Linked DNA regions of Homo sapiens: region 1 is linked to region 2. A link means that fine-mapping ties the variant in region 2 to the expression of a gene that starts in the linked region. Tissue or cell type: esophagus muscle. Region 2 holds a variant in brackets; the other region holds the start of a gene. All regions are shown on one strand. Distances are between the middles of the regions.

Region 1 (15,806 bases), 560 kb before region 2:
AAAGAATATCCCTTTATTTAGTTAGCTAAGTTTCACCAAATTCTTCATAGTTAATGGTAGTCAACTGTTCCTACTGGATGAGTCATTCTTTTTTCATTTAATGTTGAGAAAATTGCCTCTTCACATCAATTTGGCCACATAGGTGAATTTTATCCATATCGTAACCAGATATTTAGATGGGATGCAGGACCAAAATTTGTGACACTCCACTTAATACCTTCTACTTCTTCTCTGTTAAAATTGAATAATGTATTAGTTTGTCTACTTAAAATTTTCTTGTCTGGTACACTTAAGTTTTGTTTAGTACATTATGTTACATATAAATAATTACTTTGAATGAGATAGGTGAAGCAAAATAAGGCTTATGATGAAAATCCAATATGATTCTTGGAATCCTTTTAAATATTTAAATTTAAAAAGAGGCTTTCATACTTTTCTTTGTTCCCCATATCTGACTCACTCTAACTCTATAAGTCATCAATGCACAAATGTAAAATTATTGTCTTAGGAAGTTAGAGTGAGTCAGATATAACCTATCTGTTGGATAAAAGACGTAATTGTTATAGTTAGTATGCTGGAATTATGAGTAAAGCCTCAAACAACTAATTAAGACACACTAGAAAATGCTGCATATAAGAGGGAGATATTTTAAGTACAGCTTTAAAATAAAGTCCAAGTGAAAACCAATAAAATGTATTATCTATTGAGCTATTTTTGATAAACATTCATGTTTAAAATTTAAATAGTGAAGTATTAGATACTTAAACATGAAAACAGTTTTGCCATTCTAATGAATTATTCATAAGCTTTAATAAGCAATCGAAACATGCTTGACATAATTATGTAATTTAATATATATATTTAACGAAATAATAACTATGTACTATGTGCCAGATATTGTACTCAGTCCCGTGAAGCAATGATACAGTCTCTACCTTCCTAGGATTCACGCTCAAAAAGAGGTATGACCATATGGTATATGTAAGTGAAAAAATCTTGAGAGATTGTGTATGTGTAATTGCTTCTTACATTGATTCCTGATGGCACTTAACATTTTACTTCATATCTGCCTTTTGATTTGCAGAAGTACACGGAAGTTACAAAGCAGCAAATCCACATTGCCATAACTGAATGCCAATACTTTTCCACATTGTCCTGATTTCTGCCTGGTTACTTATCTCTGTTTATGAATTCTGGACAGTAGTATAATAAGTCTTTTCCATATTTTCCTACTTTCTATTTAGTTACTTTTCTCTGTCAATGAATGCTAAATAGCGTACATAGTCAGGCTGGCATTACCACAAATTTTGTTGGCAGTGATTTGTTGCTCTCCGTGGTACTGAAATATCATTGTGGGCTGAAAATTAGTTGTTTTTTCCTAATTCTTTGACAGGAGTGATTACTGCCCAATCAAGAATTCAAAACATGGAGAGAAAAGGTCTGATGGGGGGAAGGAAAGATCAAAAACAGAAAGTCTTAAAGGAAAGATTTAACTGTTCATCAATAAATGGTTGGATTTAGGTATTTTATTCTCTTTGAAGCAATTGTGAATGGGAGTTCACTCATGATTTGGCTCTCTGTTTGTGTGTTGTTGGTGTATAAGAATGCTTGTGATTTTTGCACATTGATTTTGTATCCTGAGACTTTGCTGAAGTTGCTTATCAGCTTAAGGAGATTTTGGGCTGAGACACTGGGGTTTTCTAGATATATAATCAACTTACAAGGGATGTGAAGGACCTCTTCAAGAACTACAAACCACTGCTCAAAGAAATAAAAGAGGATACAAACAAATGGAAGAACATTCCATGCTCATGGGTAGGAAGAATCAATATCGTGAAAATGGCCATACTGCCCAAGGTAATTTACAGATTCAATGCCATCCCCATCAAGCTACCAATGACTTTCTTCACAGAATTGGAAAAAAGTACTTTAAAGTTCATATGGAACCAAAAAAGAGCCCGCATCGCCAAGTCAATCCTAAGCCAAAAGAACAAAGCTGGAGGCATCACGCTACCTGACTTCAAACTATACTACAAGGCTACAGTAACCAAAACAGCATGGTACTGGTACCAAAACAGAGATATAGATCAATGGAACAGAACAGAGCCCTCAGAAATAACGCCGCCTACCTACAACTATCTGATCTTTGACAAACCTGAGAAAAACAAGTAATGGGGAAAGGATTCCCTATTTAATAAATGGTGCTGGGAAAACTGGCTAGCCATATGTAGAAAGCTGAAACTGGATCCCTTCCTTACACCTTATACAAAAATCAATTCAAGATGGATTAAAGATTTAAACGTTAGACCTAAAACCATAAAAACCCTAGAAGAAAACCTAGGCATTACCATTCAGGACATAGGCATGGGCAAGGACTTCATGTCCAAAACACCAAAAGCAATGGCAACCAAAGCCAAAATTGACAAATGGGATCTAATTAAAATAAAGAGCTTCTGCACAGCAAAAGAAACTACCATCAGAGTGAACAGGCAACCTACAAAATGGGAGAAAATTTTCGCAGCCTACTCATCTGACAAAGGGCTAATATCCAGAATCTACAATGAACTCAAACAAATTTACAAGAAAAAAACAAACAACCCCATCAAAAACTGGGCGAAGGACATGAACAGACACTTCTCAAAAGAAGACATTTATGCAGCCAAAAAACACATGAAAAAATGCTCATCATCACTGGCCATCAGAGAAATGCAAATCAAAACCACAATGAGATACCATCTCACACCAGTTAGAATGGCGATCATTAAAAAGTCAGGAAACAACAGGTGCTGGAGAGGATGTGGAGAAACAGGAACACTTTTACACTGTTGGTGGGACTGTAAACTAGTTCAACCATTGTGGAAGTCAGTGTGGCGATTCCTCAGGGATCTAGAACTAGAAATACCATTTGACCCAGCCATCCCATTACTGGGTATATACCCAAATGACTATAAATCATGCTGCTATAAAGACACATGCACACGTATGTTTATTGCGGCATTATTCACAATAGCAAAGACTTGGAACCAACCCAAATGTCCAACAATGATAGACTGGATTAAGAAAATGTGGCACATATACACCATGGAATACTATGCAGCCATAAAAAATGATGAGTTCATGTCCTTTGTAGGGACATGGATGAAATTGGAAATCATCATTCTCAGTAAACTATCGCAAGAACAAAAAACCAAACACCGCATATTCTCACTCATAGGTGGGAATTGAACAATGAGATCACATGGACACAGGAAGGGGAATATCACACTCTGGGGACTGTTGTGGGGTGGGGGGAGGGGGGAGGGATAGCATTGGGAGATATACCTAATGCTAGATGACGAGTTAGTGGGTGCAGCGCACCAGCACGGCACATGTATACATATGTAACTAACCTGCACAATGTGCACATGCACCCTAAAACTTAAAGTATAATAAAAAAAAATAAATGGTTGGATTTATTTATCCATTCAACAGGAATTTACTGTACGAAAGGCACTGTGCTTTGAATAAAGTTACAACAACCACCTCCCTTTATAAACAAATAAATCTATTTTTTTTGCTCTCATATATCCTACTATATAGTGGAGAAAATATATACAAATCACCGTCATGGAAAAATGTAAATTTGCCACTGTGTTTGGTGCAAATGACAGATGATATAAGGCTTTATGGATAATAAGATAAACTAGAGCAAATTTGAGTGTATTAGTATAAAGCTTAGTTTAAAACTAATTATACTTTCTTCATGTCATGAAATTATTGTTACAAAACCTATAATAATAAGATATATTGAATCATAAGACTTCCAAATAAAACAAATAAAACTTTAAAACTTTTAATGAGATATTGCTTTCATAAAGTCAACATTTTAACAAAAGATTTTATGCTTGAAGTAGCTATATTATTTACTGATTGTGACATTTTAAATGATTGTGTAATAGGTTTATCATCATAAATGATGAGAAAATTTGTCTGCACAAGTATAGGTGAGAAAGATTGTAAACATTTGCTTCTATGACCAAATATTTACATCAGTTAAAATCTTATTTAAAATATATCATCTCTACTTTTCTTTCATTAATTGATTCAAATTTTTTTGTGGCTATCCATGGATTTTATCAAATCTATTCAACATAATGATAAAGCTTGAATATGAAGAATGCCCGTGCATTATAAGAACAGTCAATCTGCAGCTGACATGGTTACCACTAAAATAACAAATCAACTATATATGAAATAGAATTACTTAATCTTTATGTTGCTAAATCTTTGTGTTATTAGCTGGAGCTATTCCCACTAGCAGTTTCTGCCCAACCTCCTTGCTTTCCCACCCACAATGGGCTATACTTTGAACTGCACATGCAGGCCATTCTCCAAGAAGCTCTTATCAAGTTTCTTATGATCCAGGCTATCTAATTACGGGCCCTAGCAACTTGAGGCTACACTACTTGGCTACTTCTGATGGGTGTAGTGATCGATATGTTATGGCATATCTATAAACTATTTGTGGTGCATGAGTTGAAAAGCTCAACTCTTAGCCTATTTCAATTTTCTTCTAGAATTTATTATCACCTGACGTAAATACACACCTACTTATTTATTTGGTTAGGATAGCCCTCCCCAACATTTTTGGCCCCAGGGACCAGTTTTGTGGAAGACAATTTTTCCACAGACTGGGAGAGGGGATGGTTTCAGGATGATTTAAGCACATGACGTTTATTGTGTACTTTATTTCTATTATTATTACATTGAAATATATTATGAAATAATTATCTAACTCACCATAATGTAGAATCAGTGGGAGCCCTCGGCTTGTATTCCTGCAACTAGATGGTCCCATCTGGGGGTGATGGGAGATAGTGACAGATCATCAGGCATTAGATTCTCATAAGGAGCACAACCTAGTTCCCTCACATGTGCAGTTCACAATAGGGTTCACACTCCTAAGAGAATCTAATGCTGCTGCTGATCTTACAGGAGGTGGAGCTCAGGCAGTAATGTGAGCAATGAGGAGTGGCTATAAATACAGATGAAGCTTCACTGGCTCACCCATCCCTCATATCCTTCTGTGTGGCCCAGTTCCTAACAGGCCATGGACTGCCATAGGTCTGTGGTTCGGGGGTTGCAGACCTTTGGGTTAGGACATACCTCAGCAAAATGTAGTATTCATGAAGGCAGGATCTATATCTTTTTTCTCACTGCTAGACAGTGCTAGGCATTTTCTTCTTCTCACTGGTAGGCACTGGGAATATAGCAGTGAGCATTAGCCTTAGCTCACTGCTGTATTCCCAGTTCCTAGTAAATAACTGTCATTCTGTAAGTGCTCAATGTATATTCATGGGATGTATGACTGAACCCTAAGTTTTGTGCAGGCTGTCTTTACTTTCCTCTTTGTCTTCAAAACCTATTGCAGTGCTTAGCTCATTGTAAGTACAAAGGAGGTAAGCAGAGCCCCAGAGTATAAAGGTTCTTATAGGGCATGTTAGAGATTTTAGACAATTTCTTAAAATCAATGAGAAGCCACTTAAATGTTATAATTAGAAGAAAATATTATTAGATTTCATTTTAGAAAATAAAGTTATTGCTTTCAGTGTCCCTTAATAATGGCATCTCCATCATCCTACTCATCCAATCTTAATCTCTTAAAGTTATATAATACATTTTCCTTTATCCATCATTCCTAATAATTTGCCAAAACCTGGTAATTTAATTTCAGCAAGACATAACTATCTCACCCTTTATTTCCCTTTAGAATGAGCGCCTTGGTTAATCACATAATGGACAATTGTAGCTGCTAAACTCATATCCCTGTCTTTTGTATACTCTGTAGCTAAGGCCCTATACATTTGGCCTTATATTGGCCAATAGACATTCTTGGCCTGGTAGCCCTTGTATTGGCCTTATAGCCAAGAATTGTACAGTATTGGTCTTACCATTTATCTAAGCAAATACTTGCAATAGCTCCACTTTGATTAAAGATAAATGCCAAACTTTCTGTTTGAAAAAATATGACTTTTTAATAACTTTCAACACTCATTCAGATAAATTATTGTGGTTATTATTCTTATGAGGTAAATAATGATAACTACCTGATTTTTAAAAAAGTATTTAAACTTCAAGAAATATTGCAAAATTACTACAAAGAATTAACACATACCCCTCACCAAAATTTACCAATGGTGTTATAAAAGGTTGCCACATTTGCATCATCATTCTCTCTATAGGTATTTCTGGACCTTACAACCTCTATGTTCTTTTTACTGCAAAATATTTTATTATATTTTTTAAAGATCCAGGGCTTTCTTATATATGATCACAATACAATTAAATTAGGACACTTAATATTGATATAAAACTAATTTGATTATAAATAAAAGTCATACAGTTTAGATATTATAGTTTTTATTAATATTTTGAATTAGATTGTCTCAGTAATGCTCTTTATATTAATAGATATTATTCCCAGTTTGCTCTCCAATTCTGGATTACACATTGCATTTAGTAGTCATGGTTTTTAAATCTCCATTAGTCTGGAATATTTCCTCAGCTTTTCTTTGACTTTCATCACAGTGACATTTTTGAAAAGTATAGGCAAGATATTGTGTAGAATTTTCCTTAATTTAAGGCTTTCTTTGCTTTCTCGTGATTGCATTCAATTATGCATTTTTTAATCTGGAATCCTAAATCAATAATGTTATGTACTTCTCAGTGCATCATATCATGAGGCTCATGATATCACTTGGTCCCATTATTGGTGACTTTAACCTTGGTCAGTTGGTTAAGGTGATGTTTACCAGATTTATCCACTACATGTAATTTATTATTCGTTTGTAATTAAGGATCTATAGTATATTATAAAAACAGCCTCAAGTTATTTTTGTGTATGCATTCTCCTTGAAATATGGCATTATAGTTTCTCCCATCAAGACATGGACTATATTATCTATGTTTGGGCCATGTAACTTCCATGGCTAATGAGACACCAGCAAATGTACGTCCACAGAATCTCAGAGTACTTCACATTGGAGCTTGCACTCCCTTGTTGCTTTTTGGAGCCCTGCAACTACGACTACTGCTAGCCTATTGAAGGATGATGGGCTAGATTAAACAAAAGACAAAACATTGCAGCTGAGTCCCACACCCTCAAGACTAATAAGTATGCCACACCAGACAAGTGAGTGAAGCCATCCTAGATCTCTAAACCAAACTGAGCTAGCCAGGGCAGAAACCAACCTGACAACCCACAGAGCTTTGAGAAATTACAGATGTTTATTGGTTGGGGCTAATAAGTTTTGGAATGGTGTGTTATGCACCAAAAGCCAATACTTTCTAGGGTGATACTTTGGGACTACGTAAATATCCAATTACCCAAATAAATTTTACCAAGTTTATGATTCTGCCTAAGTTAAATATTATCACAAAGACTGCAAAATGGAATTGCGCCTTTTTTTAAGAGATGAAACATGTAAGAATGGGGGCTTATTTGTCTTTGAAAAACATAGGACTAGTAAGTAGCTGTATCAGCATCAGAACCCCAATCTTTTACCTGGTCCACAGTTTTTCTCAGTATGCCATGTAGAGGTGAGTGACCTGATGTTAGGACTGGAATTCACTAGAGAGAGCAGTAGAGAGACATTCCAGAGTGTTATGAGTGGGACCCTGTGTACTCACACATGCACAGAAGCATCTCTGGTAAATGCTCCATAATTGACGGTAGGGCAGGATGGACAATGTAGGAGGAGACATTAATACAGTTATTAACATAGAAATTTAAATGATACTTGACTCACGAAAAGATATAAAGATAATATCTCTGGAAATTGCCTTTCATGAGTATAATCAAGAATGGCATTGACATACTAGATTATGATTAATAGTATCATATGTTTGTCAAACGTGGCTGTTTAATATTTTTATGTAGTCGTTATATCCTCCCCCAATTCTGCCAAAAACATCCTATAAGATGTGTGAAGTGACACTGTGAGAAGCAAGGACCCCTGTCAGCCCTTATTACAAACAAGACAACTGACACCCGAAGGGCCAAAACTAGCCAAGAGCCACAGTGAATAAATTGCCAAGCAGGCACTTGAACTCGGCAATCCCAATTTCCTAGAAAAGTTCCTCTCCCATGGCAGTGGGGGACAGGTCCCAAGTCTTTGAGACGCTAATAATGTCTGCGTCTTAGGTTTCTGCCTTGTGCCAGGCACTGTTCTAAAATCTTTACATGTATTTAAACTCAGTACCATGGGGGTATTGGTACAACACATTAACTGAGACATTCATACGTCCAGGTACTTCGGAGTGGGTGTGTGTTTAATATCATACCTACTTGCCTGAGAAAGGAATTCAAAGCCCCACTTTTTTCTTTACCTCTTCATAAAAATTTGAGAGCCACAAGGAAGCGCTCTGTGTTTCCAGTACTCTTACAGTGCGTTCGGTGGCAGTAGTCACCGCCAACCAGAACACTAGGATCCTGCCAGGGTGTAGATACTGTAACCAACAAGAGGCCAACCTCCGTCCTTTCTGCGGAGGGCGCCGAAGCGTCAAGTACCCCGCAGCATCTCTCGGCTGGAGAGCCGACGGCAAGGGTGGGGTTGCCGGCGCTTTCCCCGAGGGCAGTCTCTGATCCTCCAGCTCCCCTCTAAGAGGCTCCCTGGTGCATTGGGCGAACGCGGTGCACGCAGGCCGGCTTTGGCGTTGTGGGGCCCCAAAGCGGCCAGGGGTCGCGAGGCGCCCTCCGGCGAGAGGAGCTGACCCCAGGGTTGCTCTTGGGGGCCGTGCCTGCCAAGTATCGCGGGACTTGCGCACATCGCAGAAGCGCCAGCTCCAGAAGCAGCTGGAGCGCGCTCGGTGCGCACCGCCCCAGCCCGGGGAGGAGCGGGAGCAGGGAGGGAGGAGGGCTGGGGGTGCTGGTTACGTAAATGATACTAGCCCAGTGAGAGGCCTCCAGGCTGGGGCTACGAGAGGAGGAGGGACCACGCGAGGAGGAGGGACCGGGAGGCGGCGGGCTGGGGTGGGAGGGGGGCGGGGGCCGGGGAGAAGTGACCAGGCGGCGGCGGCTCTGCTGAGGTGACAACGTGCTAGCAGCCCTCGCTCGCTCTGGGCGCCTCCTCGGCCTCAGCGTCCGCTCTGGCCGCGCTCGAGGAGCCCTTCAGCCCGCCGCTGCGCTATGAAGGCCCCTCTCTGGGGCTGGCCGAGGCTGGAGCCGGCTCCCTCTGCTCGCGGGCAAGTGTGAAGAGAGAGGCGCGGGCGGGAGCCGGGGCTGCGCGCGGCGCTCGCGGGCCGGCGCGGGTTCCAGGTGAGCGCGGACTCGGCGAGCCCCGCACTCGGCGCGGCCGGCCGGCGCCTGCTGGGCTTGATCTGAGGCTGAATCCCGTGTGTGGACCGCCGTTCCCTCTTCGCGGGATCGTTGGCCAGGATAGCAGGTCTCCGTCTCTTTCTCGCTTCCCCTCTTTTCCTCTTGATTGTCTGGGACGAGCTCCCTCTGGGCTGCCAGAGTGCCGGGGCTAGGTGCCGCAAAGTCCCGCGGCGAGTGCCGGGGCGCGGAGCCGAGCGCCCCGGGCCGGTCCCAGGGCAAAGGCAGGGGCGCGGGCGGACCTGGCGACGCGGCCTCCCGGGAGCTCCGAGTGCGCTCGCTTGCGGGGCTGCAGGTGTTGCGGGAGGACCGCGTGGCGCGGAACTTTCTGCCGCCGCCCACCTTCTGCTCTGCTTTTCTGGCTACCCCGGTGAGTTGTTGGTGGCGGGGGGGGGGGGGGGAGCGGCTCTGGCCCCCTCTGCGTTCTGGTGACGTTCCTCCGCGGGGGTGGCTCGGCCTCCAAGCCCAGACAACTTTCTCGCACCAGCTGCAGGCAGCCCCGGCTGCGTTGCGGGCGTTTCTACTCGACCCGACACCAGGCGCTCCCTGGGTCTTGGGTGTCTTCCTCGACGGTTGCCTTCGTATAGTGCCCCCTTTGCCTCGCTTTTTCAGAGTCCTCTTGCCTCTCATTCTCGCCGTGTGTGTCTCTGCCTCTGTTTCTCTTTCTGAGCCTTGGTCCCCTCAGTCCACACTCTCCGGCCATGTATCTGTTTTTTTCTCTTATTCTGTTTCCCTCTTTCTTTCTTGGGATATCTGTGTCCCTGTTAATCTGTCTTTCCTTTTGTCTCTCCGTTTTGCAACATTTGTTCTCTTTCTGTGTCTGCTTCTCGCAGCTTATCTCTGTCTCCCTCTGTCATCTCTCTGCCCCGTCTTCCCGAACACCAGCCCCGCGATCCCGAAGCGCCTTGGTTAGGGGAGCAAGCCCTGGCGCATCTAATGGGTATCTCCAGGTGCAGAGATTTTCCTGCGGGGTCAGTGGGGACGCGGAGGAGACAGCCTGCCCTTGTCCAGGCTGTCGTGGACCTGAAGGAGGGGCGCAAGGGGTTAGAGTGGAGGGCACCGCAGCAGGCTCCCCTTGCCGGGTCCGAGGGCGCTGCGCTGCTGCGAACCTGAGCGCACTGAGGCTGCTACTCTGGACAGCGAAAGCTGCGCAAGCCCCTCCCGCATACCCGATTCTTTGACTATGGTTAGTTGAATTTCCAGGAGGAGAGTCTGCCTCCCCAACCTTTATAGCCAGCTGCAGAAGAACGGACAGTGAGCAGGCAAACATAGATGCTTTGGGGTTCAGGGAAACTAACCTCGAAAGGGTGGGAGCTTTCTTCAGGCAAAGGTGTTGCTAGCAGAGGAGAGGAGCTTTGGGGACTGAGGTATGCCTGCCTTAAACTACCATGCATTCATTGCTTAGGAAAGCGGTTTCCTTGGAGAGATCGTGGTCAGCCTTCCCTGAAACAACATAACAACATAGAGGTTTTATTCGCAAGGCTAAAGGCACTTGGCTGCCAAAGCCCCCTTGAAATTTCTGGTATCCTTGAATATTTTCAGCTTTATGTGAAAGCTGCCTTTCCTCAGAGTCTCAGTCCGTCTCTCTCTCTTTCTCTCTCTCTCTTTTTCTGTGTCTCTCTCTCTCGCTGTCTCCCTGTCTCTCTCTCTCTGTCTCGTTTGCGTTCATGCCCTCTAGTGTTAAAGAAACCTGCTGGTTCGAGAATATTGAAAAGTAAGGTCAACCTATTGGTTATTTACTTTTGGACCTCTCACCTTCCGGGATAATTCTCCTTGTATTACACGCATCCTTTCCTTTTCCTCAAAGAATGACTTTTGCATTACATTACTAATCTTTCTTTCCCCCCGCACCCCCCTCCCGCAATCTCTGTTTTTTTTTTTTTTTTCTTTCCCCACGTCTCCTGCAGAATAAGAACCTTCATATTGAAACCCTGTTCGTTTGATTTGGGAATTGGATAGGTCTGGAGAATTTGCGTAGCCTAAGGCAGACTTTGAACATTAAAAAGATGCATTTCTCTGCACTGTTTGCCATAAACCAGGATTTCACATCTCTCCTTTAGCCCCTATCCACCTTCAATTCCATGGAGAATTTTCCTGGCTGCTTCTGCTTGTTTAAATAAATGCTTTTATTTCACCATTTCTGTGATGCTTATCCCATTCCAGGGCTTAAGGTACTTGCTTAAGTAGGGGCACTGTGTCTCGGATCCGCTTTGGAGAGGAAGAATAGAAAGCTTTTCTAAAGGAATTATAGGGTACTGCTGGTATAGATTAATTCCAGTTCGGAAAGTCCTGAGTGGGAATGTGAGAATGGAGGCTGTCTCAGATATGTAGTCCCTAGGACAGTGTGGGGAAACTAGTAAGTGCTTAATAAAACTTGTTGGTTGATTGATTAGCATGCAGCGGATCATAGGCTTCCAAGTTACCAGGTATGCTAAGGAGCCTGCAGCTAAATTCCACCTCCCCGCTCCTTTTTTGGGAGGTTTCATTTAGATTTTTTATGAATGGTAATTGAGAACTAGTAGAAGGGATATTGAAACAGGGGTCTTCTGCTTCTTTGTAGTTCATGTTATTGCTTGAATTTGCCCCTTTTTGCAAGTCTACAACTTGGCTGGTGTTCTTTAACACAGTCATTGCAGAATTGAAGAAATGAGTTTAGAGGGGCCCTGAAATGTGGCATCTCTCAATCTCCTTACCTGAAAGTAAGTTGGGACATGGCATCATTTTTGGGTGAATACTTTCATGTGGTTTCTAACAAGTGAAAAGTTCTCTCTTTTAATATAAAGAACAGATATATCAGCTTAAAATACTTGGGGGCTATATATTGATCTGTAAGCTGGATCACTTACCCTAAATAATTTATGGATTCCCCTACTGCTTCATATATATATATATATATGAGATGTGCGATACTGCATGAATGTGAGAATTTCCTAAAGTACCTGGAAACATAATGCCTCCTAATTCAAAGTAATAATAGAAATCCATGGGCAGCAATACTACTTTCTTGATGATATGCTAGTCACCTCTTAAAATAGTTGCTAATTTATCATGAGTATGGTGCAGGAGCATGTTCAAAGCAATTTTTCTTTAAAAATATTATTTATAAATCACTTGATACTGTACCCAATTTTTATATTTAAAAATAGCAAAGACATAATGAAGGTGGAAAATCTGATATTGTTTGAGAGACCTTCTATTTGTTTTACAGGTTTAACTTATGCATCTAACTTTTTAACTTACTGGGCAGTCATTTCAGTTTAAACAGTTATGTCAGAGTGAACTATGTTGTTATCATGCCAAGTTGATTTCTAGAAATAGTAGTTGTAACAGGAGCATTTTCATGTAATAGAGCTTGTACAGCTTATAAAGACTTCGGGATTTTAGGAAAGGGGTGAGATAAGAAGTAACAGTAACAAATGGGTATTTTTATTCTTTATGAATGGGCAGATGAAGAGAATCCTGGTGTTTCTGAATAATAACAGTCGAGAAAATGCTTGAGAATAAAGTAGGAATAGAATTAAGCCTTACTGTCTAAAATAAATTATAATGCTACATATCTCTGTTAGGTGTTCATTGTCCTTTTAAAAATGGACACTTCATATAGTTATGACCTTTAACTAATTTGCCTTATTAGACATGATATTTTAAAGAGAAACCTCTTGCAACAAACAACACATTCTTGACAGCGACTCTTAGTACATCACCTTCTTGTATTTGTGTCCCTGTCAGAAGGAACATGTAGACATCTTAAATCTAATGGGATCTAACAGGATCACTGCTTTGAAGTCTGAATGACCATATGCCTAATTATCAAAGGATTTAAACTGGGCTTTGGTTCTAAATCCTTCCCTCTGCTCTTGTCATCAAAATAAACACATGTGAAACATCAAATCAAGTCCTACATATATATACTCATATTTATTCTGACAACCTATTTAATGACATTTCTAACAGCAACCCCCCCACACTACACACACACACACACACACACACACACACACATACACACACAGTGGCTAAGCATATGTTTGAAAACGTAAATCACATTTAAAGATCTGGCACTGTCTGCTTTGATAAACCATTTATTATTTTATCAGATTAGACTTCTGTTTACAATTTCTATCAAGGCACATTGTTGAAGGACTTCTGCCATTCAAATATATGCATACCTGTGTTTGAAAAGTCTGGTTTTTCATTGTGAAATTTAGCTTTTCAAGGAAATTTATGAAAATGAATACATTTAATTCAGTAATAGTCATCCGTTTGGGGCATTATAAACAATTATATCTAGTTTTTGGGAGGAGCAGTGTAAACCAAACAGACTTTAATCACTTGATATTTGTTTCTTCTTGATTTCATATTTAGACCTGTGTCTGTGTTTTCAGTGTAGTGTATCTATTATAATACATTTAATTGGTGTTAGCTTGATTACCAAGAAATGATTACAGGTGGCTAAAGACATCTGTGTGATTCTGATTACTGTGTGCTCTCATGTCCTTAAATTCATTTATAGCTATGAGTTTTTCAAGCTGTTTTTAGTATGTCTTTAGACTTATACATTTAAATGAAATTCTTAATTTTTAAAAGTTATCACTGCAGAGATTGATGGGATCTAAAATTTAAATTGTTAAGTTAAAGTTGGGAGACATGCTTTTCCTTTAAGGGCTCAACTTCATTCAATGTCCACGTAATTAGAGTCCTCATGAACTGTCAGGCTCTCTCTTAATGTGTACACTACCATAATTACCTACCCTTCAGAAATGAACTCAAACACAATTCAAAATATCAGTTATTAAAAATTGTTCCAGGTTAATGGTTAATCCTCTCAAGATAGTTTGAGAGGGATGTAGGGAGAAGAATGACTATTATTACCATAGATATGAACATATTTGTTATCATCTTGTAGACTATGTGAGAAAATTAAATACAATGTCCATAATAAATACTTAGATTTCTTTCATATTTTTTAAAGATATGCTCATTGTTAAGATAGATGGGGGCTGTGCAAGATATATCATGTTAAGGTTTTAACATGAAGAGGAATTAATTGGGACTCTGTTTCATATATTCCACTACATTGAATTGTCACTTAAATCTTATTTAAGCTCTTATACAACATTTTAGGAAGAGTGTGATTAATCTGCTTGTTGACACATTGGTGAACGTAATGCATGTGGTGAGTAGCCACTGTAAACAGAAAGAAGAATTTAAAAGCATAGCACAATCAAAAATCATCCAAATAACATCTTGAAGATAGTAGTAAATGTCAACTTAGTCTCTTGTCTTATATTAATTGCCTTGATATTACAAGCAAAGCACCTCTTTTTTGTTAATAAAGTGGATTTTGACATATGAGGAGGATTATGTAGCTTAGAAGCATAATAACTGACTTAATTTCCTCTTGAGATTATTATTATATAATTAGTTTCAGATAGAGAAGGTGAGATTTATATGACTATCAAAACCCCAATGAAATACAACCATTAGTTTAAAGAAAGAAAAATGGAATAAAATATATGTAAAGGTGTATCCATTCCAGCTTATTTATGAAGAAGGTAAGATGGTGTATTGGGTTATAAATTGATAAAGTGGCTAAAATTCGTTGGTTGTTTACTTTGTATTTGTACTGTGGTAAGTAAACATCTGGCAGGTCTTAACATGTTTTATCTTTATAACAACAATATGAGTAATAGTATGTTACTGTTGCCATTGTATAAATGAGGCATCACCTCAGAATCACACAGCTAATATGTGTGAGCATCAAGGATGACACCAGTTTATTCTGCCTTGAAGCCAATAATCTAATAGTTCTCAGTCTGACATTTTCACTGACTGATAATTTAAAAAAATCAAGTGGTAAACTTTATGTGATTATTTTCTTTTGTATAGTAAGAATGATTGAAAAAGTCTACTTCTATCATCTCAATTTTATAAAAGTGGATATTTTAACACCAAATAACATGGAAGAACTGAATCTCAAAATAAATAATAGTTATTTAAAGAGAATAAATTAAGCTCCCTGTACATTTTTCCACATTGTACTCATTTTCCTAATTTCACCCAAGACTGATGAAAATTTCATCACAAAAAATTTCCCGTAGATTGTGCTTGGATGCCCATCTTACTCTGAACCACTGTGATATGCTGCCTACTCTATGCACCCACACAGCTCTGGCCGGCATGGTCATCATATTCATGACTTGATGACATAATGCTTATAGCTTATTCCATTCTCTTCCTAGTTTCAAATAAAATTTGGACCTAGGAAAGATGCTAGCACTTGCTTTAGCCTTAGTTTACTGTGTTAATGTTTGTTGAAATGATTGGAAGATTAGGGATGACTTGTTCCTTCTTGGTAGTTAACTGCCATTTACTGACACTAAGATGGTGCCACTCTGTGTCCTGGGATTGGAAATGAATATTGGGCAATGACAAAAAGAGCTTGTCAGAACTA
Region 2 (15,806 bases):
ATAATTGTTGGACACTACTCTCCTACTAGAACAGTTTCCATAGGGATTCAAAATATATCCTTAGCATTGTTATTGAGTCCACAAGATTTTTTTAAAAGAATATAAAAACCAATAGGAAAAGATGAGATAGAATATAATCAAATGTAGATTTTATGCATGAATATTGCACAGATAATCACTAATATTTAGATATTACTTGAGGCAAATGCTTTGTTTAGAGCTTACATGAATTTGGCTTATTCAGTCTGTAAAATAGCCTATGAAAGAGGAGCCATATATTTATCCTTTTTCTCAGATGAGGAATCCAACATTTTGACAAAGACTCCCAGTAACCCTGGTCCTGAGTGATACCTCTCAAGCTTAGGTTTGTGTAATCTTCTAGAGCCCATTGTTGCAGTATTGTCCAATTCCAAATATATACAGATATGATACCTACCTGCGGTACAATGGCAGATAAGCTATCTGGGTAAAAATGGTAAGAGAGTGCTAAATGAAAAAACTGAAGAATGTATGAAGACTTTAAGGAGATTAGCCTTTTGCTTGGCAAAGCGGAGTGGGAAGGATAGTCCTAGTGATGTGATCAGCACATACGAGGTCAGGGATGGAAGAATAAGCTGGCTTGCTGAGTGCAAATTAAGCATCACATTGTTATATATTGTTATATTGAGGTGAAAGCAGAAAGAGTGAATGCTTTACAGATGATGTTGAGGACAGGATGAGAATACTGAACATAAGATGCATACCCACATCCTGTTTTTAGTTGTAGAATTTTAGAGCATTAAAGCTGTAAAAAATAAGTGATATCATGTAGATGTGTAAGAGTAAGTTAAGAGTGTACAGCTAGATGCTACTTACTCCTCCTGACCCTCCTCTGAACAAACCGCTGAGCTAACAGCCTATAGATGAAACCTGAAATCAATTCAGGCATAGGAAAAGGTACTGTCTGGGAATAAACTTGGCAGCTCCACTGGTGACTTCAATACCATCTATGAATTCTCCATGCTGACTTCAGGATGGTGTGAATATGGAGGAAGATAATATTTTAAAAAATAATTCACATTGCTAAAGGTATAATTTTTGTTGCTAAACAGTTATCTCTTTGATTTCAATACAAATTTTCTTGGGTTATTTTTACAGATGAGGGAGAAAATCATTATGACAAGTTTATTTTCTTACAAGTTTTATTTCTGGATTTTTGTTGACACACTTTTCGAATTGACTGCGTTCCAAATACCTAAAGAGATCTCCCAGAGGATGCAAAGGTCCACAATGACTAAATAATGGGTGTGTAAAGAGAAGTTTAAGCCCGTGGACAAATAGTGGCAAATAGCAGAGCTTCAGGTTCAGAGAGACCTCCGTCACTAAGCAGCTCGGACATATTGGGAATCCTGTAACTTCTTTGGCTTCAGTTTCACTTAGCGAAGCAGTTGGCAAAATTCGATATATATCAAACTGTGAACTTTTATAGTAAATATTGTCCTGATGAACTCGCACAAGAAAAGTATTTTATAATTTAAATGTAGGGAAATCAAAACCTATATGATAGAGCTGCACCAAATATACATGTAGACATTTTGAATTCAAATATATATTCATTTGTAAACTATACCTTAATAAAAATAAAACAAAAATGAATACATGTATATGTATCTAGGCATACATTGTTTTATTACTCTTTGCTTTATTGTGCTTCACGGATATTGCACTTTTTAACAAATTGAATGTTTGTGACAACCCTACATGGAGCATGTCTATTGGCTTCATTTTTCCAACAGCATGTGCCCACTTTATGTCTTTGTGTCAAACTTTGGTAATTCTCCCAATATGTTAAACTTTTTCATCATTATTTTATCTGTTGTGATGATCTATGATCAGTGATTTTTTTTTTTTTTTTTTATTTGAGATGGAGTCTCGCTCTGTCGCCCAGGCTGGAGTGCAGTGGCGCGATCTCTGCTCACTGCAAGCTCCGCCTCCCGGGTTCATGCCATTCTCCTGCCTCAGCCTCCCACGGGCGCCTGCCACCACTAACTATTGTTAATTGTTTTGTGGTGCTGCAAACTGTACCTATATAACAACAGTGAACTTAACTGATGAATGTTGTGTGTATTCTGACTGCTCCACAGACTGGCCATTCCCTATCTCTCGCTCCACAGACTGGCCATTCCCTATCTCTCGCTCCACAGGGCTTCCTGTTCCTGAAACACAACAATATTGAAGTTAGGCCAGTTAATAACCCTACAATGGCATCTGTGTGTTCAAGTGAAAGGAAAGTCACATGTTTCTCACTTTAAATCAAAAGCTATAAAAGATTAAGCTTAGTGAGGAAGGTATGTCAAGAGCCGACACAGGCCAAAAAGTAGGCATCTTGCACCAAACAGCTGGAAAAATAGTGAAGGGAAAGGAAAAATTCTTGAAGGAAATTGAAAGTGTTACTCTAGTAAACACATAAATGAAAAGAGAGCAAACAGCCTTATTCCGTATATAGAGACAGTTTTAGTGGTTTGAATAGAAGATCAAACAAGCTATGAAATGCCTTTACACCAAAACTTCTTCCACAGCAGGGCCCTAACTCTAATTCTATGATGGGTGAGAAAGCTGCAGAAGAAAATTTGAAGCTAGCAGAAGTTGATTTATGAGTTTTAAGGAAAGAAAGATAACATAAAAGGGCAAGGTGAAGTAGCAAGTGCTGAGGGAGAAGCTGCAGCAAGTTATCCAGAAGATCCAGCTAAGATCATTGATAAATGTGAATACAGTAAACAACAGATTTTCAATGTAGATAAAACAGCACCCAATTGGAAGAAGATGCCATCTGGGACTTCCATAGCTAGAAAAGCGAAGTCATTGCCTAGCTTCAAAGCTTCAAAAGACAGGCTGATTCTCTTGTTAGGAAAAATATAGCGAGTGACTTTAAGTCAAAAGCAATGTTCATTTATTTACCATTCCCCAAATCCTAGGGCCCTTAACAATTATGCTGAATCTACTCTGCCTGTGCTCTGTAAATGGAACAACAAGGCCTGGATTATAGCACATCTGTTTGCAACATGGTGTACTAAATATTTTAAGCCCACTGTTGTGACCTATTTCTGAGGAAAAAAAGATTCCTTTTAAAATATTACTCCTCATTGATAATTTACTCAGTCACCCAAGAGCTCTGTTGGAGATGTACAAGGAGATTAATGTTTTCATGTCTGCTAACACAATATTCATTCTGCAGACCATAGATCAAGGAGCAAGTTCAATTTTCAAGTCTTACTATTTAAGAAATACGTCTTCTAAAGTTCTCACTGCCATAGTGATTCCTGTAATAGATCTGGGCAAAGTAAATTGAAAACTTTATGGAAAGTATTCACAATTCTAGATACCGTAAATAACATTTGTGATTCATGGGAGGAGGTCAAAATATCAACAATATCAGGAGTTTGGGAAAAGTTAATCCCAACCCTCTTAGATGACTTTGAGGGGTTCAAGACATCAGTGGAGGAAATAATTTCAGATAAGGTGGAAATAGCAGGAGAACTAGAATTAGGAGTGGAGCCCGAAGACGTCATTGAATTTCTGCACTCTCAAGCTAAAACTTTAATGAATGAGCATTGCTTCTTATCAATGATCAAGAAAAGTGGTTTCTTGAGATGGTGTCTACTCCTATTGAAGATGCTGTGAACACTGTTGAAATGACAACAAAGTATTTAGAATATTACATAAACTCAAGTCGATAAAGCAGTGTCAGGTTTTGAGAGGATTAATTCAAATTTTGAAAGAAGTTCTACCATGAGTAAAATGCTATCAAACATCACATGCTACAGAAAAATCTTTAGTGAAAGGAAAAGTTGATTGATGTGATAAACTTCATTGTTGTCTTATTTTTTAAAATTACTACATCCACCTAACTTTCATCAGTCACCACTCTGGTCAGTCTGCAGCCATCAGCATTGAGGCAAGACCCTCCATCAGCAGAAATATTACCACTCACCGAAGGCTAGGATAATTGTTAGCATTTTTAACGATAAAATATTTTTAATTAAGGAATATACATTGTTTTTTGAGACACAATGCTACTGCACGCTTAATATGGCTACAGTATGGTGTAAACATAACTCCTATGCACAGGGGAACAAAAAAATTCATGTGCCTTGCTTTAAATGCGATACTTGTTTTATTATAGTGATCTGAAACTGAACCCACAGTATCTCTGAAGTTTGCCTGTGTATATGCATGTACATACATACACACTCACACCCCTCTTCATCTATGGATTAAAAAAAGGAAAGAAAGAAACCCTGTGGCAAGATAAAGCAAGTAAAGGGCATTTAATTCCTGAGATCTTTGCAGAAAGAGACAAGATTCAGGTCCCAATAATACAGCAATGCCTTTGCTTTCTTACTTTGTAACGTGTACTGCTGGAACAAGGTTTCATTAGCACAGGCTCATGCTAGAGATTTGAGAAAACGTTTGTTTGTAGTTTTTCTAAAGGGTCATGAAAAAAGAGTATTTTAAAAGAAGTAACTATACATATATTAGGATTTTAAACATAATACAACTGGGAAAAAAAATGTGGACACCTAGTCTTTCATTATATAAAATTAATTTAACAGAATATTTTAGATCCTTCTCACAGAAGTCCTTGAAATTATTTAGATGTTTTAGGTATTTGAAGAATTGTAAAATGTCTTTGGACATTCTCCCTAAAAAGAAAAATCCAGAACAAACCATACATGTACGTGAAAAAGAAAGAATGCTTACCATCTGATATGATTTGGCTGTGTCTCCACCAAAATCTCATCTTGAATTGTAGCTCCCATAATCCCCACGTGTCATGAGAGGGACCTGGTGGGAGATAATTGAATCATGGGGGCAGGTTTTTCCCATGTTGTTCTCATGATAGTGAATAAGTCTCACGAGAGCTGATGGTTTTATAAAGGGCAGTTTCCCTGCACACGCTCTCTTGCCTGCCACCATGTGGGATGTGCCTTTGCTCCTCCTTCACCTTCCACCACAATTGTGAGCCTCCCCAGCTATGTGGAACTGTGAGTCCATTAAACCTCTTTCCTTTATAAATTACCCAGTCTTAGGTATGTCCTTATAGCAGTGTGAGAACGGACTAAAACATCATCTATGAAAAGAAAAATACAGAGATTAAAAGGAATTGAGATTTGAATTGGCTTTATATGTAGTATCATCCATTATAGATAGTACTCATTTGATTACAATATAAATTCAGAAGCAGAAATCATTACGACTTCAATAAAGTATACATAAAATCAGGAAATCACCTAGTCACATTATAAAACACCTTTATGAAGATACAGCTATAATATAAAAGTATTTTGAAAATGGTTGATTTTATACTATTGGAAAGTATAACTGGATGTTAAAATTTCAGCCCAGATACCAAGATACAATAAATGTGAAATGTAAAATCAGATTTCCCTATGCAAAATTTGCAATGACAATCTAAAATCAGATTTTCCTGTGCAAAATTTGCAAAGACACTTTGGAAATCTGATTTCGTGACTTTAGACACTTCAACCAGCATGAGGAGGAAAAGGAGGTATGTTGGTTTGCTGGAGCTGTTGTATCAAATTACTGCAAACTAGGTTGCTTAATAGAAACCTAGTAAATTGCTTAATAGAAATTTATTGTCTTATAGTTCTGGAGGCTAGAAGTCTGAAATCAAGGTGTCAGAAGTGCCATACTCCCTCTGAAACCTAAGGGAGAATCATCTTTTTCCTCTTCTAGCTTCCGGTGTTTGCCAACAATCCTTGGTGTCCCATGGCTTGTAGATGCATCATTCCAGTCTCTACTTCCATCATCACATGGCTGTCTTTTCTCTGTCTCTATTCTCTTATAAGGACGCCAGTCCTTTTAGATTAAGGGCCCATCTTACTCCAGTATGACTTCATCATGAGGACTATCTCCATAAGTGTGCACATTTTTTGGTACTGGTGGTTAGTACTTCAATATATCATCTGGGGAGCCACAGTTCAACCCATAATGGAAAGTATCAGAATATGAAGAAGATTACAAGATTTTGCCTGGAGAGATTAGTTGCCCTCCCTCTAGAGGAGATGGGCTGGGATTCTAGCTTCCAGTAAGAGGAGGATTCAAGGCCAGGAAGTTCTTGAGCTTGCAACCCATGCAATCACACAGATCCCTACAATCTTGGAATTCTTGGTAATTTTATAAAAATAAGTTCTGCATTTTCATTTTGCACTGGGACCTGCAAATTATGCAGGATGCCAGTTGGAGAGCTTGGTATATGCTTCTGGTACTTGAGAATATGGCAGGCTGTGGCCTGACTCACACATGATAAGGCTGGCTTGTGACAACTGAATACAGGGAGCTGACTGCACTGCCTAAGGTTAGCCTGCCTCCCAGAGTTTTCACAAAAAGTGGCTCACTTATAAAATATGCATTGTCCTCTCTCTTTGCACTTCAGTTAAGAGGTGCTCAGAGATGGGAATCTCTAAGAAAATCCAAATGGTCTCAGGACAGGGAGCTTTAAATCTCTGGCAGGCCAGAGAACAGGAAGGAGTTATACAAACCAGTTCAAGTAAGACCTCTCTTACAGCTTTGCCACTCTGGAAGAATAAAAAAATAAAAAATAAAAAATAAATTGATTAGCAGACTGGGTGAATTTAGGAGTGGGTAGGAACAGTGAGGAATAAAAAAAAAGCTTAAGTCGTAAAACAGAAAAAGCCTTTGCCTCTGCAGGCTGCCAACATAAATTAGGCCCAATGTGAAGAAGGGGGAATTATTTGATATTACATTACATTTAGAGTTTTGATTAGTACTACTAAACAGTATATTCTAATTTCTGAATTGAATCCCAAGGTGATCTAAACAGGTTAGCCAAAAAAAAAAAAAAATTCATGTACACCATGTTTTTCATTTAGGAATAAGGAAAGATATGTTATCTACTCCAATACATTGTAAAGGGTTAGTGGTGTTGTGGCCTGAATTGTGCTCTTCTAGAAATTCATATGTTGAAGTCTTAACCCCCAGTTCCTTAGAATGTAACCATATTAGAGATGAGTCTTTAAAGAATTTTGGCATCATTAGGGTGCCCTAATCTAATGTAACTGGTGTTTTTATAAAAAGAGGAGATTAGGACACATGCAAACAGAGAAGGAAGACCGTGTGAAGACACATGGAGAAGATCCCTCTTACAAGCCAAAGAGAGTGGCCTCAGCAGAAACCAACTCTACTAAGATCTTGATCTTGGACTTCCAGCCTCCAAACCTGTCAGGAAATAAATTTCTGTTGCTTAGGCCACCCAGTCCATAGTACTTTGTTATGACAGCCCTAGTGAACTAATACAACAGTAAACAATAAAAACTGAGTTATTACAGTGATTAGTTTGTTGGTTTGTTTGTTTTTTTTAGAGGAGTCTCGCTCTGTAGCCCAGGCTGGAGTGCAGTGGTGTGATCTCCGCTCACTGCAAATTCCGCCTCCCGGGCTCACGCCATTCTCCTGCCTCAGCCTCCAGAGTAGCTGGAACTACAGGCGCCCACCACCACACCCTGCTAATTTTTTGTATTTTTAGTAGAGACGGGGTTTCACCGTGTTAGCCAGGATGGTCTCAATCTCCTGACCTCGTGATCCATGCGCCTGGGCCTCCCAAACTGCTGGGATTAAGGCATAATAATCAACAAGGTCCATAAAATGGAGCATAGACATCATCACCTGTATCATTATCACCGTCTTATAAGATAGCTGAGATTAAAAGAGTTGACTCAAAAATGGCCATTTTAGTGGTTGTTTGTAGACCTAGCTTGACTGAAGGACTACATGAGAATATATGTGATACTAGATAGCTCATAATTTTACAGTTGAGACAACATGAACATTAAGTGTGAAACAGAATTTTAAAAACACTATAAATTACTAAATCCATAGGATTCATACAAAGAGCTCTACATGTTACATTTTGCAGTACTGTAAGTTGGTATACATTCATAGAAATATAAATGTAATTGCACAATAGAAGAATAGAGCAAATTTATTTAATGTAATATATACGAAGCATAGAACACATTTTTTAAAAAAGGTAGTGTTCAATTAATGTTAACTTTCTCCCTGTTTCCTCTTTTATAATGGAAGGAAAGGCACAGAAATTGATTGTTTTTCCCTGCTTCTAGTCAGCTTAATCAAAGTGATTAGACTTTGAACCAATTAATTGTCATTAAAGTCAGGCTGCCACTGGAACAAATGGAAACATATGCTAAATCTATGGTTCATGTAACACAGTTCTGCTTTACTAACTATTGGTAACCGATGATAAAGCAATTTGAGAGATAATTAGAAAAGGAAGAAGAATAGTTTCCATTATTTTAAGAGAATGTACAATGAGATTTTATTAATGAATGAATCAATCTTGTATCGTGTAGTTATCAGTATATGTGATAGTTTAAGGTAAAGTGCTTCATTGGTGTGCAGGTTAGAAATATTTTAACTCACATAGTCAGGCATAAAGGTTTCAACCACAGCAAGGACAGGCTGGGCCTTACACATACTAACTGAGAGTGTCTGTGGAGTAGTGAGATGGAAAAACAAGCAACAGCTATAGGGAATAGCTGCTTCCTAGGAAATACAGCATGAGATTTGGAGATTGTCCCCAAAGTCATAAAGGAACTCATAAGTAGTTAATCTAGAGGGTCATAATACAATGCTGAAATTATCAGAAACATCTGTCATCAGGTATTATAAACTCTCTCTCGGGACTTGTGTAGTGGCCAAGGGTCAGCACAGACAGGCAAGAGCAAACATTGCTGGACCCTTATACTAAAATTTCTTGGCAGTATTGGGAAGAAATCCTCAATTTGGGATTAACTCCAAGACTGGGAATAATAACTCTAAATATCAGCTACTGAATTTTGTCTGTGTGCTAGAATCTCTGCAAAGTATTTCACATATAATGTTTTCAGTATACCCAAAGTGAATTCCATGAACCTTTCACAGTAGTAAACATGAAAAAAATTTTAATAATGACAATTATGGGTTAAAAAGCTAATGGATATAAATGATAAATAATTGAGATCAAACCTAATAATTTCCAGATAAAATCAAGAAGGATATGTATATACTGACATGCACTGACTTTTTTATTATTATGAAGAGTAAAAGACATCCTAGAAACAAGCATACAAACGAGATTATTTCCCA[G/C]GTACACAAAGCAAATTAATCCTGATTTTACATTAATCCAAGAAAAATAAGGAAGCATTATCTACAGATTGTTTTTAACATTGCTTGTGAGCCAAATATTTTAACATCTGTTAATTTTTTTTCAAGTACAAAGGCCAAAAAAAATTTAGCAGACATATAATTTATATACACATATAAGTGCAGAAACTGTTCTACAGATATATCTTTCTTAAATGTACGTTACTTATAACTGTAACAACCACAAATGAATCTAAATTAGAAATTGAGGATCAAGGGATATATGGTAGACTGCTCTCTGAAAGGTTCAACAGGTACTGTTTCCAAACTATCTTAAGACACTGGAGAAGAATACACTGTATAAAAACGGCCTGAGCCATTAGAAAATTAAGGCTGAAATGGATGTTATGATGTTTCCTTTTACACTGGCATTTGTACACTTTAAAAGGAAGCAATTCTAATGTCGAAGACTATCCTTCAGTATTGAAATAATCCTATAATGAACAAAAGAAATTTCTCTAGAAATTTTCTTCTCTCAGCTTAAGATTCTCACTTGTGTAATTAAATAAGTTTGTAATTGTGTTTAAGATAATACGGTTTGGGGAGGATATGAATATTTCTGTTTGATGGGTTTTTATTTTATTCTTCTTAGGTGACCATATGTTCTTCATAAAAAACATATGAACATGAAAAAGTAAAGAACCTAGAAAATTTATTTGTGAATTGAATATATGAAGTCTGTGTTATATTTTACATAATTCAATTAAATGTACTTCACATTTCTCAAATTTGTATATTATTGAGAAAATGTATAACCTTTGTGAAGAATTTTCTGGGTTTTGTTGTTGTTGTTGTTGTTGTTTTGAGACTGGGTCTTGCTCTGTCACCCAGACTGAGTGCAGTGGTGTGATCATGGCTCAAGCAATCTGCCAACCTCAGCCTCTCCCACTCAGCCTCCCAAGTAGTGGGGACAACAGGCGTGTACCACCATGCTTGGATAATTTTCTTTTTATTATCGTTTGTAGAGCTGACATCTCTGTATGTTTCCCTGGCTGGTCTCAAACTCCTGGGCTCAAGCAATCCTCTCGCCTTAGCCTCCCAAAGTGTTGGGATTACAGGCGTGAGCCACCGAACCACCGACCCAGCCCCCCATAATTTCCTTTTAAGCGGTTGGCAGAAGAGGGTATTTGTGTTCTGTCATTGATTTTGCCGCTTCCTCTCACCACTTCTTGTGGTTTTCATAGAAGTTCTGAGTAGCAATGCTGCAGAGGCAACTCTTCCAAGACTAACTCGTTCAGCTTACGGAGCTCCAGAGTTTATGTTATTTGTAAAGCTGACTTCCTCAGATTTCATCAGATATCTTTGAGAAACAAAAAGACCCTGACATGACCTTTCTCATTATGTATTCTGTTGACATTGCAAGGAGAAAGAAAAACCCACAGAATACTGAACAATGCTTATCGTAGTTAAAAGAAGAAAACACATTCTATAATTATGTGCTTAATAACCCTCATGAGGCTGGGCATGGCGGCTCACACCTGTAATCCCAGCACTTTGGGAGGCCGAGGCAGGTGGATCATGAGGTCGGGAGATTGAGACCATCCTGGCCAACATAGTGAAACCCCGTCTCTACTAAAATACAAAACATTAGGCCGGCATGGTGGCGCATGCCTGTAGTCCCAGCCACTCGGGAGGCTGAGGCAGGAGAATCGCTTGAATCCGGGAGGCGGAGGTTGCAGTAAGCCCAGATTACGCCAGTGCACTCCAGCCTGACGACAGAGCAAGACTCCATCTAAAAAAAAAAAAAAAAAAACCCTCATGAAACCTTAATAATCAATGTTGTAAATAAATTATTCACACCAGGAACAAAATAATAAAGATTATTATAGTTCAATTGAATTATCTAACAAAGAGTCCATAATCCACCGTGACATTTCTTGGATATTTTCAGAAGAATTGATGTAGTTAAGCTTAGGCAAACCATATTAGAGAGATAAGTGTAGAGCCTACCTTTAATAAGATCTCTAGAGAAGATACTTCTACAACCTTCAGAAGCTCACTGACAGTATTTAATAAAACTTACACGATGTACTTATGTTATCAGAAGAAAGATTTAAACTTCTATATGAAAAAATGACATTGTAGAATTGGAGAACTGGTCATACAATAGTAGGAACAGGGACTGCCTTCACTGAGCTCCATGCAGTTTGTAAACTTTATTTTACTTAACCTATTGAGAGCTTTATAATGCAAGTATCATGAAAGAACTACAGTGCCAGCAAATAATGGGTATTTAAAGGTTTGTTTTGTTAAACTGAGGCCTCACCAAAACATCATAAAACAGATGACTTTGTCCCTATTTTGCAGTTGAGGAAAAAGACTCAAAGAGATGAATTAGCTTTCTCAAGATAACATACCAGCAATCGTTTGAAAACACAAGTTTATCTGATACGAAAGCTTCCCTGGATAGATCTGCTCTATTGTGACATTTTAAAACATACATTTTTTTTATTAGCTGAATTTATATTTTCAGGTATTTTCTTACACTGCTGACAAAGAAATCCGAACCGATGACTTGTGCTTGGATGTTTCTAGACTCAATGGACCTGTAATCATGTTAAAATGCCACCATATGAGAGGAAATCAGTTATGGGAATATGATGCTGAGGTATAGTATTTTCTTAATTTACTTATTATTTGATGCTTAAGCTCAGTTATATATTTCAACATTCAACATTTAAATCTTAAGCTGGTTTTTATCTACATTGGCAGAATTAGATTTTCAAGCATGCAGGCTCATATCCGGTAATATTAGGATGGCATATCATATAAACAGGTTTCACCAAATTGGTCCATTAATATAAAATATGAATGAGGACAATAAAATCAGTTTTGTGTATGACAACTTGTTATCTCCATGTACATGCCAAACATAAATTAGGCAAGAGGTAAGCTAAGCCTATCTGAGAGGTTTGTATGAAGATGTGCATACAGGATAATATTGACAATATGTCCATATTTTCAAATTTTAAATTTTACAATACTAATCACTGACATTTATGTTCCTCAACTGGAAGGAACAATATCTGACAAGATTAACAAGATTTCTTTACTGTTTACAGTTGTAAATATTTTGCAGAATTCAGTAAACTAATTAGTCACATAAAAAGTTGAGTAGCCTCTTCTCAATATAGCACACCTTTCTGACAGAGAAGAGGGAGAGAAAACCACAAAATTACTGTTGGAAATTTATCTCCAGGCAGTGTGTAAAAACCAGATCAGCCATCAGATGGAGCTAATAAAAAAGAAATATTTTCCTTTGCATAACGAAGCTTACTCTTGAAAACAGCTTCATTTCTTTCAGTTTTCTTTTTTGATTAACAAAATGAATTGGTTGTCTGTGTTACATTTCCCACATTATTAAGTGGTAGGTGATTTATTTAAAAGGAAAACTAAACTTCGTTCTGCTTAAAAGATAAATACTACTATAGAGGTAAATGAGTCTCACAGATGCAGTATTCCATGCAAGCCTAAAATTTTCTACAAGAATAACATTTTAAAAACCAATCTACAGAGTTTTTGGTATTGTTGATATTTTAGCAAGACCTTTTAAAAACCTTTTTGAATGTCGTTTTAATATTTGCATGAGTCTGTAGTTTCTTAAGTTGAATACTAGAAAAATTTACTGAATTCTCATAGGATTTGAAACTGGTTGTGCAGGGTTAATTTTGGGCCTAACACTCATACAGTGTTACCAGGATCTTAGGACACAAAATCATCTTCTGGGCCATAATTGAGGGCAAACACTGAGAATTCTTCCTATGTTGTACCAGTGTGATTAAGATGCTACTGCCTTCGCTATATCTTACTCACCTTGTCTGACCACCAATTTTTTTCTCTTCAACTATTATTTATTGGTACCATCCTTGATATTAAGCCTACAGAAAACAGTGCCTTTGCAAAATACATGTAGGTAAATCCTTCATCAGTACTCTCTTCTATGAGGAAAAGTGCAGTAAAATGTACAGATATAGTAGAAATCCTGTAAGTGATATTTGTTTTTAAATAAAACTTGTTCTTCTTGTTGTTACTGTTCCGTTTCTACCAGGAACCTGGGGCTCTACTGAGCTTATGCTAAAAATAAGAAAATCTAGAATATATTTATTAAGAAAGGGGAATGATCGTGTACATTTTTATAAAAGCAAGCAGTGTGGAATTTTAGAATACCACTTTTAATCTTTAAACTTTTCCATAACTCTTGAGTGAACAATGTCATAACTCAAATTCTTTCATTTCTCAAATAACTACTGTTAGCAATTTGGTGTATATTTTGGTTTACATTTTCTGTCAGCTAGTAGCAATGCTATTGAATACTAAGGAATTTTAAGTAAAAAGTGAAAAAAAAAATAGGTAGCTTCACATAGGTAGATAAATAAATGATTTCTATAAATTTACTCTTTTGGATGACTAGTAGTTATCTGTTGCAGTATTTCAGAGCACTATAATATTTTGTGTCATGTTTACTTTGACTTTGGAACACACGCACAAAAAGCTTATAAAATGTCATAAATATTGAGAAATTTTTATTTTAAATAATTTGATCATCTGAATTATATAGCTTAATTAAATTCTCTTATATGTTTATGTTTTCAAAATTAACTAGTGATGTTTACATTGTCTAATGACAGCACTTTGCCAAATTAAAAAATGCATAGGTCATAATCTAATAAATGACATGAGAATAGAGCAATTGTAGGAATAATACATTGCCTTTCTGGAAATTTCAGCTTTGATGTGCGATTATATTTTTGAGAAGGTCGTTAAAAAGGATTTTTTTTAAACAAAATTGAAATATAACATTTATTACTATGCTTTTCAGTTTTACATTTAGGGTTTCTTTAGTTCACAGAATGGTTCCACCCCTTGCTACCCACAGGGTGATTCCAGGAGTAGTAGCATCACCTGGGAACTTGTTAGAAATGCAGGATCCGAACCCATGCTAAACACACTGAATCCAAGTTTGTATTTTAACAAAATCTCCGATCATTCATATACATATTTACATTTGAAAAGGACAGGGTCAAATATCTATGTATCTTCCATAGTCTTTTTATACACTGGTTAAAGAATGTTACAAATTTAGGAAAAGGCATGAATACAATTTGGAAAATGGCAAGGCCTCCAGAGGGGAGCAGAGAGAGGGAAAGGGAGCAAAAGGATAAGAGGTGTTGAGATGAGAAAGAGGAATAATTGCTCAGTGGTTCTATTCTTCTCATATTCCAACCTGTGGAAAGTAAATGCGCACTGCTTACTACTTTAACTCAATTCTTTATCTTTTGCTGGCAAGGACAAAATTATTCTTTGAAAAATCTCTGAGGTGGTGCAGGTTCAAGGCAGAATAAAAATTGTTGGAGTTCATAGAATTACAGAACTGAAATGTACCTTAAAGTTCTCTCCTTTAAGCCTTTATCAGGAGGAACTAAAGCATAAAGATTACACCGCTAGCAGCAGAGCTAGGATTCAGGTCCTAATAAAGTATTCCAAGCAAGCTAGCTATCAGTACAATTGTGAATCTCACCATGTGAACAGCACAAATATTCCATCACCTTATCTCCCATAGTCCTTTCAATCTTAGAAAAGAAAGTCATAAATAGAAGCAAGATTGTTGGAATATCCAGAGAAAAATGGAAACAGTGTCATGAAGCCTCAAAAGATGGAATCTATCCAGCTACTTTGGTTTTGTTTACTTCTTAGGTGAGTGGGGGAAAAGAGAAGGAATACAGTTCAACACGTATTTATCTGTTTTCTCATGCAATTCTTACAATAGTCTTATAAGACAGTTATTCTATTTTTCACATTAGTAAAATGAAGCATAGGGTAAATGCCTCGTTTAAGTTTGCACAGCCAGATTCTGGCAGTAAATCCAGCAATTTTTCTACTACACTACATTGCCTCTTGATGTTGTCGAAAAACTGGAAATAATTAGATTCTCTTTCAGTGGTTAAGATATAATAAGCTAAATATACAGTATTTCAAATGGAATAGCTAAATGCTATCAGTTATTTGTTATGCCAAATTTTGAACTAAAATTTCTCATTTTTTTAATAGGGGGAAAGGTGTTCTACAATAAATATGGTCCATTTAGCTAAATAAGCAGTCATAAAACTACTTTGTCATTTTGCTCTAATTGCTTACAAACTTCAGCTATACATATTCATAATATAATATCTAATTGCTTATCCTTGTAATTGAATGAAACTAAGCACATGTTAGTAATAAATGCACTTCTTTGGTCAACTTTGATTTCAAGTGTAGTTTCTCACACCCCTAACTAAATAGTCCTTAAATAACCACGAATTCAATTCACTGTCATCTTATATGTGGCCTAACCTGTTTGAATTGAGGGCATCCTGGGCATCATTAGCAAAATTGTGGGGTACCTACGTGGTCTGGAAGCTTAAATAAATTGCACAAACCCTTCTGTGCCATGAAATGCCTATTGCCAGGATTAAATGAAGAGAAAAAAATTCATCTCACTGAGACATTTTAAAAATTATTTTTATAAAGTTCTGTCATCCATTAATTCTATTGTTTTCAGGTGTTCTTATATTCTGTTTGAACATTATAATTATGTTCCAATCAATTTA

What was found.
Region 1: GALNT13 starts here. The variant in region 2 is fine-mapped to the expression of GALNT13 in esophagus muscle (GTEx, PIP above 0.99).

The regions. Positions count from the first base shown.
Region 1 is chr2:153,862,882-153,878,687 of GRCh38, forward strand. GALNT13 (polypeptide N-acetylgalactosaminyltransferase 13) reads left to right here and starts at 9,041. Exons shown (of 13, transcript NM_052917.4): 1 at 9,041-9,422.
Region 2 is chr2:154,426,900-154,442,705 of GRCh38, forward strand. GALNT13 (polypeptide N-acetylgalactosaminyltransferase 13) reads left to right here. Exons shown (of 13, transcript NM_052917.4): 12 at 11,693-11,827. It overlaps GALNT13-AS1 (GALNT13 antisense RNA 1), which reads right to left. Exons shown (of 5, transcript NR_161181.1): 5 at 8,954-10,951. Among named protein-coding and RNA genes, the nearest start is that of GALNT13-AS1, 23 kb to the right of the region's middle. The variant G/C (reference allele first, on the strand shown) is at 9,163.